Regions from separate parts of the Homo sapiens genome. Here region 2 is linked to region 1. Evidence: fine-mapped expression QTL. Tissue or cell type: whole blood. Region 1 holds a variant in brackets; the other region holds the start of a gene. Each region is shown on its reference strand, or each on the opposite one.

Region 1 (2,500 bases):
AGTCTATTCAGATCTTTTGCCTATTTTAAAATTAGATTATTTGTCTTTCATTACTGAGTTATAAGAGTTTTATAATTGCAGATACAAGTCCCTTATCGGATACATGCTTTGCAAATATTTTCTCCCACTTTATGGGTTGTCTTTTCACTTTCTAGATAGTATCATCACAAGTTGTCACTTCTGATGAAGTCTAATGTATCTTTTTCTTTGGTTGCTTGTGCTTTTGGTGTTATACAAGAGTCCTTTGCCAATTTTAGAATCCTTTGCCAAATTCAAGGTCATGATGCTTTACCACCTACATTTTCTTCCTGGCGATTTTATCATTTTAACTCTTATATTTATGCAGTTGATCCATTTGAGTTAATTTTTGAACATGATGCAAGGTAGAGATCCAACTTCATTTGTGTCTTGATATCCAGTCCCAGGACTATTTGTTTGTTAGAAAGACTACTCTTGGCTGGGCATGGAGGCTCACGCCTGTAATCCCAGTACTCTGGGAGGCCGAGGCAGGCAGATCACCTGAGGTCAGGAGTTCAAAACCAGCCTGACCAACAAGGTGAAACCCCATCTCTACTAAAACTACAAAAATTAGCCGGGCATAGTGGCGTGTGCCTGTAATTCCAGCTATTAGGGAGGCTGAGGCAGGAGAATTGCTTGAACCTAGGAAGTGGATGTTGCAGCGAGCTGAGATCACACCATTGCACTCCAGCCTGGACAATATGGCATGACTCTGTCTCAAAAAAAAAAAAAAAAAGAAAAGAAAAGAAAAGAAGACAAGACTACTCCTTCCCCATTGAATTGTCTTGGTACTTTTGTCAAAATCAATTGACCATAAATGTAAGGGTGTATTTCTGTGCTCTCATTCTATTACCTTAATGTTTTACACTTGTCATCCATGTCCTATGCCAATTTTTTATTTTTATGTTACAGTACAGACATCTACTTCTTGACTTGGTGACCCAAGTTAGTGTCATTTCCCTTAGACTACCAGCTCCAGTGAGTTCAAACAATGCCTACAGAACTTGCTTTGCACTGTGGCAGGCACAGCCCCTGCAGTTCATAAATCTGCTGTACATTACA[G/A]GGGGAGTTACATTACAGGGAGTTACAGGATGCCTGTAACTCAGTGTCCCACCCTGCCGGCTTCCGCTTATCTGACAGCCACATCAAGCCAACTGGTTCATCACACACCCTGAAGTCAGAAGGTTGTGGCTCAACACTATGTTTTAGACTCGACCAAACTGTACTCTGATGAGGAGCTAATGAGAAAGAGATCAACGATAGGATGATCATATGTTAAAGTACTCATGTCCATGGAGCAGGGAGGGAGGGAGAGACAGTGAGAGCAAGAGAGAGAAGAAATGACCAGGAGACACTGAGAGAAAGGGAAGGGACCAAGGAATTGAGAAACGGGGAGAAGAATTGAGGAAGGCTTATTTAAAATTCTTATCAATCACTTGACTAAGTATCCCCTCAAGATAGCATAACTGTAGGCTGCTCAAAGCACAGGTGTGGGTGGCAGAGAGGCCCACGTGTCCAACCTGGCTCTGCTCCCTGCCAGCCATGTTGCCTTATGCAAGTAACTCCACATCTCTAGGCCTCCATTCCATCATCTGTCAAATCGGATAATAAGAAAATTGCCCTCAGGGGGTAGGCGTGAAGATTAAATAAGTTAATGCTCTTAGCCCAGGGCCTGGCACAGGAAGATCAATACAATTAGTGCAAACCACAGGAGAGTTGAATAACCCCCTACTAGCCTCATCACCAACTGTATAAACCAGTGGACCTCGAATGAACTTCATGTGCATTGGAATCTCCAGAAAGGTTGTTTGACAGAGATTGCTGGGCTGGCACCCCAGGGTTTCAGGTTCCGCAGGTCTGGGGTAGTGCTTCTAAATTTGCATTTCTAACAAGTTCACAGGTGACACTGATGCTGTTCTTCCAAAGAACATACTTTGAAGACCACTACTCTGAATTATGAAGGGTCAGGAAAACAAAATGCCACTTATTGGCATTTTAAATTCTCAAGTGAAAAGTCTTTAAATAAAAGCCCTAATAACTGATCCCGGATATAGGCACCCTGAACCATCTGGAACTCACTAATAGAAAGAAAAGGTGACTTTAATTACCAATTTCTGGAATGTAAAAATACAATCAAGCCTAGTTGCCACGATAAAAGTGTCCTTTAAAGCCTTTATTTGACTGGAAAGGAAGAAATCTGAAGCAACATGTAATAGCACATGTGCATTAACAACATCAAATGAGGTTGTCTTTACCATGGAATCGTGTTCACTGTCCACACAAGTGCTCAACTGGGGCCATTGAGAAAAGCTTTTTTCTCACCAAAATCTTGCAACAAAACATACTAATAAAACAATGCTTACCCATACAGGAAATGCGTTGTCTGCTGTCTACTTGGGAGGGGCTATAAATAGCTCCTTGGAGAACATTGTTCTATAATTAGCTTTCACTTCAAGTGAACTATGTGTAATGAATTTCATAT
Region 2 (3,021 bases), not on the chromosome of region 1:
TCAATCGAGAGCAGTCGCCCCGCCTCCTACCCGCCCTTCCCCGGCCACCAGGTCGTGGGCTGGACCCCGAACGATAGCAGGGCCAGGACAACCTAGGGGAGGAGAGAAGGGAACACGCGTTGCCGGGGCGACCGGGGGGGCGGAGCTCATTATGTAACGAGGCCGGGAGGCAACGACCAATGGGGTGGCAGCCACGGCTTCTGCTGAATGAAAACAAACGCAGCACGTGGGCCCGGCTCTAGAGCCATGTGAGCCCTCCCGGCGGCCGGAGCCCTGTAGGTGCCCTCCCTCGGGCCGGGCACCACGCTCTGGACTCCTCAAGTGTCGCTCCCTCCTGTCACTGAGGATTCCCCAGTGAGATCCGAACGATTCTCCCAGCCCCTCCTTCCCTGAACCCCATCGCGCCACTCTTCTCAGATTCCCTCGCGCCTGCAGGAACTAGAGGAGGGGGAAGACAAGAGGGGAGGGGGTCCGTTTTCTGAGGCCAGGCATACTACAGCTGCAGGTAGTGGACAGATGGGGCCGTTTCGGGGCACTGTTCCAAAGCTCCCAGTCCCCCTAAATTCTTCGCTTCACCACCCGTACCTCCTCTCCATTTCCTCCTGCCCAGGGATTCGAGGCTCAAGGGAGCTTTGGGACTCTGAGGGGTGGTGATGGGGCGTTTCTGAGAGCATTTCCAGCCCGAACAAGCCGCTCTGGAAATCCCACACTAAAGCACCGCAGCACGTTAGCAAATCTCCGGGCCGAGGGACACCCCAGTCCCTTACAAAGTTCCTCTTTTTATAAGGCGTAGATGGAGGTGGGGAGACAGTGACAGGGAAAAGATGATAGTAAAGAAATCTCAGTACCTGTGTTGTTGTTGGAGTCCAGGGTCGTCATGTCTTCACCAGCTGAGAGCGGTCATTCAAACTGGACCTTGACTCAAACTAGAGGTTGCGATCGCCGCTGTTGCCCCCTGGGCACTGGCTAAGGGCGGGGAGTGGACCCCGCGACTCACGATCAGGATCCGAAGCACCCTGCAGCAAGGTCTTGGGGTGGCCGGACTGCAGCCCTGCAGAAGGGTTGGACGTTGAGGCAACGGAGTTCTGCTTTGCATGGGAAGAGCAGAGAGAGTGTGTAGGGGGAATCAGCCTGCAGTAGTTCTGGCTAGAAGGTAGCAAGGAGGGTCGGGTCTCTGCAGTGTACGGGGTGCCTCTGCCTGCCGGCTCCGCAGCGCTGCGGGGTGGCGAATCTGGAGCTCCCGGTGCAAAAGTCCCAGAGGAAGAGAGGTTGCAACCAGGAAGTAAGTAGGTGATGGGGAGAAACGGGGCACCGAGTCGCAAAGAGGCGAGACGTGTGCCCTGCTACGTTCCCTCGGCAGTAATATTTCACTCTGCCAATCTCAGCCGCCTTTTGCCCGAGCCTTTCCCTGGGACAGAGGGCTCTGCGCAGGCGCCAGCAGCCCAGGGTTCCCGGGCCGCACGCGGCACTGGAGCAGGTACCATGTGATCCCAGGGAGCGCCTCGTGCCCCAGTGACACACTTTTCCAACAGCCGGCACGTTGAGCTCTTGCGCGCCTGCGCAACGACAAGACTGTCGGGATTTGTAGTCCACCGACAAAGTGGGCGGACTGCGTGCCTTTCCCCTTTCTGCCTGGCAAAGCGCTTGCCGGGACCTGGGAGGAGCTGAGAGTGGGGTGGGGTGGGGTGCGCTGAAGAGTCAGGGTGGCGTGTTTAGAAAGCCTGTATGGCAGGGGCATGTGAATTTCTGGGGAGGGACTGGCAAGCTTGTTTGCTGTCTGGGAGATCAAAGCTAAGAGGCCCTTTCTGCAAACCTTGCAAACGTGAGGGCTTCACGTGATTGCAGGACTGACCTCGTCCTGAGGTTACTGGTGACCGGGAGAGAGAGAAGCCGGGGAGGGAGATTTCCCTGGAGTCAGGAGCTTAGGCTGCCCTCTGCTTCAGGGCAAAGTCCAGAGAAGGAAAGGAAATGTGACCCCCTTTCCCTTCTACTCGCCTTAGGGAGAACACCTCCAGGGGAAGGAGTTCCCACAGAGGTAGGGATGTCTGTAGGGACTCCCTGTTTGCTTGTATGACACCATTCCACCCACTCCAGTTGACTTTGGGGTGAGTCATTTCCCTTTGTCTGGGAAATAAAAAGGACAACAGAGGGGAACTAATAGTGAAAGTGCTTTGAGGTCCTAAAGTAATGGGGAAGAGGTGAGGCAGGGGGTGGGGGCAGAGTGACACCCCTGCCCCTCGGTGCTGGAGGATAAAATATGAATTCCACAGAAGATTACTACTCAGAGGGGAACATGTAGATCATCTTAAGCCTCCCTCTTTTTACTAGTGGGGAACAGGAAGCTTAGGAGAAGTGACCGACCCAAGGTCAGACGTCCATTGCTAGTTTCATCTGCCCACCCCGAATGGGAAGGTGGGTAGATGTACAAGTGAAATACTGAACAGGGGTTAGAAACAGCCAGCATTGCCGGGTGCTTTGGCTCATGCCTGTAATCCCAGCACTTTGTGAGGCTGAGGTGGGTTGATCACCTGAGGTCAGGAGTTTGAGACCAGCCTGACCAACACGGTGAAACCACGTCTCTACTAAAAATACAAAAATTAGCCGGATGTGGTGGTGGGTGCCTGTAATCCCAGCTAGTCAGGAGGCTGAGGCAGGAGAATCGCTAGAACCCGGGAGGTGGAGGTTGCAGTGAGCCGAGATCGCCATTGCACTCCGGCCTGGGGGATAGAGTGAGACTCTGTCTCCAAAACAAACAAACAAAAAACAGCCAGTATTTCGCTTCAGAGCAGCAACTGTCCCATGAGTAATAACAGATCTCAAGTAGAGGAGATCTATCATGTTAGAGGGCTTGGGTCATGGAGGGGATGGAAGCTTCTTAGGCAGCGAAGGGAGAGGGAGCCTGAGCCACCTGCTGCTCCCGCTAATTCCTCCCCAGTCCCAGTGCTTCTAGAGAGGGTTTTCTTCACATAGGAAGCCCTTCTCCACAGGCAGCTCCTGGGATGGTATTGATGGATGCCTGGG

What was found. PIP is the estimated chance that this variant, and not a neighbour inherited with it, causes the effect. A credible set is the group of variants that fine-mapping cannot tell apart.
Region 2: NR1D1 starts here. The variant in region 1 is the best candidate, but not a certain one, in a credible set for the expression of NR1D1 in whole blood (TOPMed, PIP 0.56).

Annotation. Positions count from the first base shown.
Region 1 is chr2:100,811,232-100,813,731 of GRCh38, forward strand. No RefSeq gene overlaps it. Among named protein-coding and RNA genes, the nearest start is that of NPAS2, 7.7 kb to the right of the region's middle. The variant G/A (reference allele first, on the strand shown) is at 1,081.
Region 2 is chr17:40,099,216-40,102,236 of GRCh38, forward strand. It overlaps NR1D1 (nuclear receptor subfamily 1 group D member 1), which reads right to left and starts at 1,374. Exons shown (of 8, transcript NM_021724.5): 1 at 849-1,374. The coding sequence starts at 879. RefSeq lists enhancers at 1-717, 1-620, 621-1,604, 1,070-1,139, 1,620-1,739 and silencers at 1-188, 199-288.